Regions from separate parts of the Homo sapiens genome. Here region 1 is linked to region 2. Evidence: fine-mapped expression QTL. A gene starts in region 2. The other region holds a variant in brackets. All regions are shown on one strand. Distances are from middle to middle.

Region 1 (5,373 bases), 150 kb before region 2:
AGTCACTGAGCCTCAGGCAAGGAGGGGCCCCAGGTATATGGATTTGGGGTGCATATGGATACATGGAACCCCAGAATCCCAAATGTCAGGGCCAGAAGGTATTTATCTCAGTGAGCCTAGCCTGGGATTCATCCGGGATCAGGTGATAGCATAATGGCACAGCCACAGTCTCCTGGCCCCGTCTCATCTTTCCTGAGGGAAATGCAGCCCAGGGTTTAAGTCCATGGTTCTAGACAAGCAGATGAACAACCTGGGGCCCATATACGGCTTGGAACGCAAGCTCGGAGGAGATGCCAAGGCTCTCGTTTAGGACCTGAACTGCAGACCCCACACAGGACCCAGGGAAGGACTATGCCAGGCCCATTGCCACCACCATCCACAACTGGTCTACTTCTGCCTTGGCAGCTCCGAGCCAGAGCGGGAGACTGAGGCCTGGAGTGGACTCCTGGGGCACTGGAGAGGGGGTGATGAGCTTAGAAGCCTAGGTGTCACCACTGTGGACAGGAAGAGAGGAAAGGGCCTGACCTCCGACCTGCTCCTGCTGTTGGTCCCCGGATACCTGCTCCCCAACAAGGAGCCAGCAGCCCTGCATTGTGGGCGCCTTTGATGCAGCTCCTCCCACTCCAGCCAAAGTCAAGTGCAGTGGAGAGGGCAAGCTCGGGCTGGGGGTTGGCAGCACCTATGGAGGGCCTGCAGGATAGCTGTTCCTACCGCAGAGCAGGCAGCTCCCACATCGTCTTGCAGGGGACCTTGGGATGGCCACCAGGCCTGTGGAAGGGGCTCCCTGGCCCATGTCCCAGGGCCCTCCCCTGTGCAACCTGACCTGCATCACACTTGATTCCTCTGGCCCAGGGCAGCTGCTAGGGTGGAGCAGCTGTGCCCTGCAGGGCCCTGTGGCTTCACAGTTCCTGGAGTCCTACGCAGTCTACGCAGGACAGGTTCTGGACGGACTGACACAGACATGAGACTCAGGGATTCTGAGCAGGTGCCTAGGCATGATGGGTGGTCCCTGAGCTGGAGCTCCTGGCCATGGATACTTAGTCGTCCCTGCCCCAGCTCTATCCACTGCTCCCAGAAGCAGCACTGGCCTTTCCTTGACCAGGGCAGCTGGCCGCAGATGCAGCCCCCAGTGCGCCCAAGAATGCACCTGAGACCAGAGGCTGCCCCTTGGCGTCAGGGCGTACCAGTCACCCCTGAAGTCCCCTGGCATCCCAGGCCTCACACACCTGTCCTCTTCCCCCCCACAGCACAACAGACGTGCACACGGTGGCCTCCCTGCTGAAGCTGTACCTGCGGGAGCTCCCCGAGCCCGTGGTCCCCTTCGCCAGGTACGAGGACTTCCTCAGCTGCGCCCAGCTGCTCACCAAGGACGAGGGGGAGGTCAGTGGCTCCTGGGGATAGCTCCTGGGAGATGGGCTGGCTGGGTGGCAGCCTGTAGACTCAGGACACAGACTCTGACTTTTCATGAATTTTCATGGCACATGGATCCTGTGGAGGCCTGCTGTGTTGGGGGTGTGGTGGGGGCCTGGAGCATCCTGCTTGGGTGGGGGAGGGGCCAGGGCATCCTGCTCAGGTCGGGGAGGGCTGGGGAATCCTGCTGTCTGGAGCCATACCTGTCTGCGGCCTTGGTCCCTGGGAGGGGTGGGTCCGGTGTGCCCAGCTCTGGCTGTCACACCAGTAGGTGCTCACACTCCCCACACCCGACTCAGGCCACTCAGGCCCGTCACAGGCTCAGAAACCAGGACATCTTTTATTTATATCTTGCTTCCTTCCCAAAAGAATTTGAGCTGGCTCCCAGGACAGATGAGCCAGCCCTCCCGTCCCCACCCGTGCAGGTGCTGGTCTGCAGCCCCAGGTGGCTCAGGGCCAGGGAAGGACTGTTTGCCTTCCCTGCGGCCATGTGGGAGATGAGGGCTCACTATCTGGCAAATATTTGTGTCTTGATAAGTGAGCTGAGTGCTGGCCCTGACATTCCTCCACGGGCCCTGTAGAGGCTCACCCCTCACACCAGCTCCTTGGAAGCAAGTTAGCTTCCCAGGAGGTCACAGCTGGGCCCTGGCCACTCCTTGAGGGGAGGTGGAGGTGGTGGAGCCCTCTGGTCTGTTGGGGCTGGGCTGCCGTAGCCCCCACCTCCCTTCTCTTTGCCCACCCCTCCTCGCAGTCAGAGAACAGTCAGGGCCCTCATTGCCGGTGTTTGAAATTCTGTTCTTCATTCCTAAGGGCACTCTGGAGTTGGCTAAACAAGTGAGCAACCTTCCTCAGGCAAATTACAACCTGCTCAGATACATCTGCAAGTAAGCGGCTTGGCAGGAGGGAACCACACTTTCCTGCACTGGCTCCACGCTCCCCCAACCCCACAGCGAGACACGCAACTCTTCCTTGTCAGAGGGGGGCCCGGGTCATTCCCCACCCTGCACAGCCTCAACCCAGCGTGGACGAAGCAGGGAGTGGAAA[A/G]GCACAGACCCTGAGTTCACGAAGCTTACAGTCCCATGGGAGCAGCTGGTTTTAAACAGACCTGGGTAGATAATTCCAGAAGGGACATACCCTCTGTCCCTCCTGGGTGCCTCTTGCCATCCTGTCCCCCCGGCATCTGCCCCTTGACCCCAACCCTTCATGTATCCCCATCCTAGACACTGAGAAGGGGAATGCAGGGGCGGCGCTGACTGGGGTCTGGGACTTCCCAGAATTTGTGCCCACTACAATTTGCAGAGTCTTGTCCTCCTTTCACACAAATAGCGGTGGGCCCTTGTCCCAGTGACTTTTACTTCTGATGGCCCTCTTGGGCCCCAGGGGAAGCCTTCCCTCATCGAGCCTGGCAGAGGCAGGCTACACCCAGTGGGCAAAAGCCCACAGGCAGCAGGGCTCAGCAGGGGTGTGGCGGTGCGTCCAGGCCGCACACAGGAGACTGGGCATCACAACTTGCTTCTTTGATGACTGCTGCTTCCTTACTTTGCAGGTTTCTGGATGAAGTTCAGGCATACTCAAATGTCAACAAGATGAGTGTCCAGAATCTGGCAACCGTTTTTGGACCTAACATTCTGCGGCCACAGGTAGAGGACCCAGTAACCATCATGGAAGGTAAGTGGGAGGTGTACCTGGTGGCCCTGGGTGCTGCCGGGGTCTGGGCTCATCTTGGTCCACGGCAAGTCCTTGGAACCATCCCAGCCCAGGGCCAGGCCAGCAGGAGGGGTGGCTCAGGTGGCACATCTCCATCTCTGGGGACTTGGCAGGAACTTCTGCAGACCTCACCCCCGACCCCCATGAGGTTCAGCTATAAGATAAAAAAGGAACTTTGCCCTGCGATGGGCAGCAGCAGGTCACTGGGTGCAATTAGAATAGCCAGGGGTTTCTGTGGATGGAAGAGGCTGGAGGGATGGGAGAGGTCAGCACTTTTGCCCTTGAACACAGACATGTTTGCTTTTCTTTTACAATTAAGCAATTGTCATAGGTTCCTGGATGTCAGCTTTGCAAACCCTGGAGAATTTCTCTATGATAAATAACAATAAGTGATTAAAAATAGCAGCAACAGCAGCCGCTTTCAGTAAGCTTCTACCAAGTGCTTTGTTTGTATCATCTCATTTCAGGCTTTACAACCAGCCTGTGCTGTGGTAATCGCCCCCACTTTACAGATGAGGAAACTGAGGCCAAGAGAGGCGAGGGGACTCACCAGAGGCCAGTCAGCCAGACTTAGCAAAGGGCACAGGTGTAGGCTGCCATAGAAAAGACAGCCCACCTCATAGGGCCCATGGAACACTGTCCCCAGTGGAGTATGCATGAGAGACGTGCTGCTCAGACAGGAAGCCCACAGCTGAGGCTGTTCTTGCCCTTATCCCATGTTGAGGGACGTGGCGGAGTGCTTTTGCTCAAGTCCGCACTTTGGTCAGCCCTGGCTGGGTCTCCCACCCCAGGGCCCCTTGAGGCCAGGAAAACACAAGCTCCTACCTGCCTGGTGGTACAGATGCTTGAGGGAGGAGGCCTGCCCTGCCTGCTTCATGGAGTTCCTGCTTCACCTAGGTTCTTGGCCTCAGAATTCCTTCCTTGACTTCTTCCAGGATTCCTAGTCAACTTCAGTGGGAGAGTCCACCCTGGCACTCAGCCCTCCCTCCTACCGGGGGACCTCCTAGCGTCGGGCCTTTGTGGTGAGGGTGGCAGGAGGGAATGAGGCAGCTGGATAGATGCCCTGGTCCTTCCTGCACTGCCCACCTCCGCTGCAGGCCCCCACCCCACCACCGTAGGAACTGAGTCCCCAGGACTGGGGGCTGCATCTCAGGGGCCTTGGCCTAGACACGGGGGATTGTGTGTGTGCGAGATTATATGTATGTGGGATTCTGGGGGGTGAGCAGGGTGCACTATGTGTGCAGTTGTGTATGGGGGAATTTGGGGAGGCTGCGGAGGGTGCATTGTGTGTGCAATTGTGTGTGGCGGATTTTGGGCAGTGGGTGGGGTTCATTGTGCGATTCTGTATGGGGGGATTTGGGGAGGCTGGGTAGGGGATTTGTGTGTTCACTTGTGTGTGTGTAGGGGCTTTGGGGAAACTGGGTAGAGTGCATTGTGTGTGTAATTTTATGTGTGTGGGATTTTCGGGAGTGGGCATTGTATGTGCGATTGTGTGTTGGGGGATTTGGGGAGGCTGGGTGGGTGCATTGTCCAGTTGTGTGTGTGTGTGGGACTTTGGGGGTGGATGGGGTGCATTGTACGTGTGATTGTGGGGGGTATTTTAGGGGGTGGGCGGGGTGCATTGTGTGTGCAATTGTATGTGTGTGCCCCCACACAGGAAAGATGGCTCTATTCCCTGTCCCAGAGCCCTATGCTCCCAGAGTGTGGACATTCAGGCATGGCAGTTGTCAGCAGCACAGAGGGGTGACGTGGGGCAGCCGAGAGAGTTCTGGCATCTCAGGTCCCAGGTTCCAGTTCCAACCTGCCACCTGCTCACCGTGCAGCCTTGGTGCCTGCTTCCTCACCCCACCCCAGCTGGAGGGCGTGAGCGCAGGCACAGTGCTTCCTCCCTGCTTGCGGCTCTGTGCCTGAGGAAGGCGGTTCTGCGGCCCCATCCTGCTGTCCTGCCTGGAGTTGGAGGGTGTGTGGTCCTTTCCTCTGGGCGGATGAAGGCTCCCTTGAGGGGCGGCCTGGCTCTGGGGACAGGGCCAGCTCCCACGAAGCTGCAGCTTCTCCATGACTGGCAGAGCGAGCCTGGGCCGAGTGGCTGGCAGCAAGGCCCTTCTCCGCCTCTCTTCCCGGCAGGCACTTCCCTCGTCCAGCACCTGATGACCGTCCTCATCCGCAAACACAGCCAGCTCTTCACGGCACCGGTCCCGGAAGGGCCCACCTCCCCGCGCGGGGGCCTGCAATGCGCAGTGGGGTGGGGCTCCGAGG
Region 2 (5,373 bases):
TCTTAAAAAAGTATTATTTTCTTATTTCTTCATTTCCACTTTACAGCAAATAATAAGAAACTCATTAGTTAACTCATTTCATATTCTTTCAAATACAAAACAAACGCTAAACTGTATTTAGTAAGTGGAAAAGAGCTTTAACTTCGATAAATCAATTATTTTGAGTTTTAGGCTCATATTTTGTACCAATTGTGTTAATACAAGTTAGAACTTAAAACCAAACATTTCAAGTAAACATTTCTAAAATATTAGAAATATTTCTAATAAAACATTTATGTGGTTTTGTCCTCAATTTTCCACAATAAGAGTCACCAAAAAACTTTCAAATAATATTCACAAAATTATAAATGCAATCATTTTAGACCCCTACTGAAATACCAGTTTATGAGTGCCTGTGTGTGGATTACGTACATGCACACACACGGACACACATAAACTAGCACATACACAGAAACACACACTCCACAACCTACTTTATTTATCATATTAAAAAAATATTTAGACAAGATTTTATTTTAGGACAGTGAATGACCTACACGTGATTCAAAAGCCCATGTCATCATAACAGATAATGTACATGAACTGACCATTTAGCCATCTGATGCGACAGTTGCATGAAGCTTCCAAAACTTTATGGAGAACATTACGGTTTTTTTTAAGGCTTGATTTTAAATATTATCAATTACAAAGAGCTTTTCATCAATCCGACTTTTATTGAACACTTACTATATTCCAGGCTAGGTGGTGGAGAAACAGATGCAAGACAGGCCTGCCCTCAAGGAAGTCCCATTTTGATTGCTTGCTTTTGTCAGGCACAGCACTAAACATGTTCACTTAGAGCATCTGACCTCCTAGGTTTAACGTTAACCACAGCAGGGGAATCTGAGGTAACCATTACAAATGACTGTAAGGCTGCAAGACTGGAAAAAATAAAATTTAGAAATAAATAAAAGCTGTTGTATATTTAGACCAAATCTAATTCTACTTCCTATTACACTTGAACTTCCAGATATACTGCTTAAAAAATGACCCAGAATATAACCATACCTTCCTTAACAGACATCACTTATGTAACTGTCTCATTTAAAGGTCCATCTATTATACTTCAGTCAAAGCATCCTCTTCCATGAAAGGATACTTTACCTTCACACCAAACCTCTTCATCTGAGTACGGTACTAAACAGCTGCTGAATGAATGAATGAATGAAAAAACAGATGTTCTAATTGCCAAGGAGGTACTTGCTGGATGCTTATCTCAAAACACAATGGACTGACGGACCAGAATTCTACTGGAAAGATCGCTGGATTTCAGAGGTAAAAATAGTAATCACTGGACAATGCCATGTAGTCAACATGTTATTAAATTCGCAGTAAAGACCAAGCAGGGAACTTTCAGAAATAAAAACGGAAAGTGTTCATCAGGGTACTTTAAAATGGACTTGGTTCTACCATCTCTGAATCGGGAACACAAATGCGAGACAAAGAGATGGGAGGGTGGGGTGAAAAAGTCAAAAGGTCACCACCGATGACCCTCAAGAGAAATGCGCGCTGACCACCGAAGCTCGGGCCAAGCTGGATGGACACCTCCCACCCGAGCCACGGGCCTGGGCTCTCTGCCCTGCAGCCCAGAGCTGCAGGCCACTCTGGCCCTTTTCAGCGCTGCTGCCTGCGTTCGCCCAGAACGTTAGCACAAAGAAAGCATCGAGAAGCAAAATACGGTCCCTATGGGCGCGGGGCAGGCTTGGGGACCTGCCGGCAGAAGCGCTCTCCCCGGCTCCCCGCCGCCCCGGAGGCAGCCAGGGCGCGGCGGGCCGCAAAGACACCTCCGTCCGACCCTTGCCGAAGTGTTTCAGAACTTGCCACCCACCCCCCCGCTCCATTTTCTTCTCCCGCCGCGGAGGCAGGACCCACGCGAAGAGGACGCGAGAGGACAGGCGGGCGGGGCTCGCGGCGGCAGGCGGGCTGGCGGGCAGCGGAGCGCACCCAGGTCCCGCAGCCCCACGCCCCCTCGGCTGGCCCCCGCCTCCGCGCCGCTATTGTTCCCGCGCCGCCCCCGCCCACCGCGCGCTCCCGCCCCCACTCCCAGGAGGGGGTTACGGCTGAGGAGAAGGCGGCGGCGGCGGCAGCGGCACAATAACATAAACACGACGGGGCCGCCTGCCGTCCCGGCCCTGCGGCGTCCGCCGCACTCACCCGGCAGCGCAGCGAACGGCGACAGGGAAGCCCGCCAGCGGGGACAGGGGCCGTCCGGGGTGGTCGCCGCGGCCGTTACCCAGCGCTGCTCGCGGCTCCGCAATCCAAGCCGCGTCGTCCGGCCTCGGCCGCTCGGCTGAGTAACAGAGACGCGGGCCGTCACCGCGCACGCCCGCGCACGTCATCGCGCAGGGCCCCGCCCCCGCGCCTCCCGAGCGGCCGGCGGGGCGGGGCAGCCCCGGGGCCCGGATTGCGGGGGCGGGGCCGCCGCCCGGGGACGGCGCTACTCCAGGGGTTACGAGAGGACTTGCGGAGGTCGCTTGGAGGCGGAGCCGCGGAGAGAGCCTCCGAGGGCTGTGGGTGAGGGGCGTGGCCTGGAGCGGGAGGGGCGGGCCCTGTGGCGGCACGTGGCGGCGCGTGGCCCCAGGGGACCGCATCTGGTTGGCGGCGGTAGCCAGGTCAGAGCTTAAGCCTTCGGGCCTCGTCGGCACAGGGTTGAAGGGCAGGTGCGCTTAGGCCTAACCTGCGCAGCGAACAGGCACCCCCTTCCGGTACACACACCTGAGTGATGAAGAGCTGGTTACCTTGACCGACAATATGTTCCATTCTGAGGACACCTGTCCGGGTCCCAGAAACCTACAGAGAGATAAGTGTTCTCTTCAGCTGCCCGGGAAAAGCTGCCTCCAGTTTTTCCAAAATCCACCTCCTCCGAGATTCCTTGCAAATCCACCTCTTCCCAGATTCCTTGCATTACCTGGTTTACTTCTGAGGCCCCACAAAGCGTGTAAATGTTACAGAAGCGATAAATTGACAAGTCCTTTAAATATCCAACAACGGGTGGAAAGGCGTTTGAACTACCTACACCATTCGGTAGAATACATTTTAGCAATTTAAATGCCATGTGTTCAAGGAATTCTTAACAACATAGGAACATGTTCACAATGTATCATTAAGAGAAAGAAGCAAGAAACAAGTCATATATAGAATGGTCCCACTTAGATACTATATATACACATAGAAAAAACCTGGAAAGAAATACACCAAATTATGTTAACAATGGTTCATCATTGGACTATGGAATAAAGGGTGACTTGGTTCTCGTTTATACTTTGGGTATTTTCTCATGTTTTCCGAGAGGAATAGTTATGTTCACAATCAGAAACAAGTAAGTTACTTTAATAATGAATATATAAATATTTGTTGAATAAATGAATGATTTCAGGTAAACTACTTTCCTATTACATGTGGGGCTGGCCTGTTTCTGGTGATTCTGAAAGGGAACATACAGATGATTATTCATTCATTCTCTTCCCATTTCCTCTCTCCCTCCCTCTCAACCTTCTTAATTTCCTTCCTGCCATCCTTTGTTCCTGCAATAATTATTTATTGCATGCCCATTCAGTGCCAGGCAATACAGTAGAGTTTACAGATTTAATCACTGTACTATGAAAGTAATAATAGTAAACGCAAAATTATCACTGTTTTATAATACAAATTGTTAAGGATACATAATACTATGAAACCAATTAATACACTAGTTAATAAGGCCAGAAAAGATTTCCCTGAGGAACTGTCACTTGAGCTGGGAATAGGTTTGACTAGACAGAGAATATTTTAGAGGTAGCTTTGCACGCAAAGGTCCTCTGATGAGATTAAGCAGGATAAGATGGAGAAATTCAGGAAAGGCCAGCTCTGCTGGAGGAGCAAGGAAGAAGGAGCTATGAGATGAAGTCAGGAAGATTGGTAAAGGGACCAAACGTAGGACATCCATATTGGCCATGTTGAAAATCTTTTTATCCTAAGTGCAATGGGAAGCCCCTGACATATTCAGCAAAGGGTGTGGCATGGTCAGAATAGCTTCTTGAAAAGATTCCTTATTGGAAAGAGCCCAGGTGGATGTAGGAGTAGCCTAGACGGTAAGAGGTGGAAGCTTGATCTAGGGTGATGGTCATGGAAATAGTTGATGGACATGGAAAGATCTGTGAATTATTTAGGAGGTCCAACGGGCAGAACTTGCACATTCTCCAAGTGATGGGTTATGTGGGGCAATGAAGGAGAGGGAGTCATCAAGGAAAACTCAAAGGTTTCTGGCTTGTGGCCAAGGATGGATGTTAGTGCTGGTTTACCAAGATGGGAATCTTGGAAAAGGACCAGACTGGCATTAAAATATCATGAGAGCAGGCTGTTTGGCTGTTTGAAGGCTTTTGAGATGCCCAAAACTGATGTTAAGTTGGTGGTTGGATATACAGAGCTGAGGTTCAGCTAGTTAAGAGACGAATCATTGACAGTGAGTGATTCCTTGAAGCCTTGGGATAGATGGGTCAGCCTAGGCCTGAGGAGAGGGCCTGCAACCAGGCTTGGGGAACTTCAGTGTTAAAGGGCCACAAAGGGGAAGATGAGTCTGTGATGAGCTGCCAGGGAGATAGAAGGATAACCAGGAGAGAGGTGTTCAAGAAGAAAGGGCTGATCAATAATATTAAACATAAGAGGAGGCTTGGAATCCTGGAGTAATAGAACCAGAAGTGAATTAGAGTGGGCTGGGAAATGAATGGGAGGTGAGAAAATAAAGGTGGTGAATATGGATGAGTCGGGCAGTGAAGTAGGACACAAGCATATTTTACATCTGATGGGAAGACTGTTGAGAGGGAGAGGTTGAATACACACAAAAGAGAAGGAAGACGTGTGTTTCCAGAGAGAACGGGGTGTGATTGAGTGCACAGACAGAGGTACCACCTACTCTTCACCAGACAAATTAAAGGCCTGGAGGTAACAAAAAACAATACAACCCTTAGAGCTGTTGTGAAGTGAGGGGAGTTGCTGGGAGCAGAGCTCCAGAGTTTCACGCCCAGTTCTGTGATGCTATTGTTAATAACCGCCTCTGTCTCACTCCACAGAGTGAGCTTCTGACTTAGTATCAGTCTACCATGGTCAGCTTCTGATTATCTACAACTAGAAAGAACATTCCACATATTTACATATGTGCGTTTGTGTGTTTGTGTGTGTGTATGATTGATTTCAGAAAGCATTTTGCTATTTCTGATGGAATGTAATTATCTCTGATATTCTGCAAATTCAAAATGCTTTTCTGTAACCCAGATGCAGTGTTGGGCCTTCTTCTTCCTTTTCATGCAATTCTTTCTTGTCAACCTGTTAGGGTTCCTTGTTAACCTATTAAGGGGC

Direction of the effects. Positions count from the first base shown, and alleles are read on the strand shown. Sizes are in standard deviations (SD) of each study's normalised expression.
For the expression in sigmoid colon of the gene that starts at base 2,338 in region 2, allele G in region 1 goes with a higher level than allele A (small effect, 0.35 SD a copy in GTEx).

Evidence for each region. PIP is the estimated chance that this variant, and not a neighbour inherited with it, causes the effect. A credible set is the group of variants that fine-mapping cannot tell apart.
Region 1: its variant is the best candidate, but not a certain one, in a credible set for the expression of MAPK8 in sigmoid colon (GTEx, PIP 0.71).

The regions. Positions count from the first base shown.
Region 1 is chr10:48,451,009-48,456,381 of GRCh38, reverse strand. ARHGAP22 (Rho GTPase activating protein 22) reads left to right here. Exons shown (of 10, transcript NM_021226.4): 6 at 1,248-1,380; 7 at 2,221-2,294; 8 at 2,957-3,078; 9 at 5,242-5,373. Among named protein-coding and RNA genes, the nearest start is that of ARHGAP22-IT1, 58 kb to the left of the region's middle. RefSeq lists an enhancer at 1,361-2,338. The variant A/G (reference allele first, on the strand shown) is at 2,455.
Region 2 is chr10:48,303,642-48,309,014 of GRCh38, reverse strand. MAPK8 (mitogen-activated protein kinase 8) reads right to left here and starts at 2,338. Exons shown (of 12, transcript NM_001323329.2): 1 at 2,194-2,338. RefSeq lists a silencer at 1,758-2,707.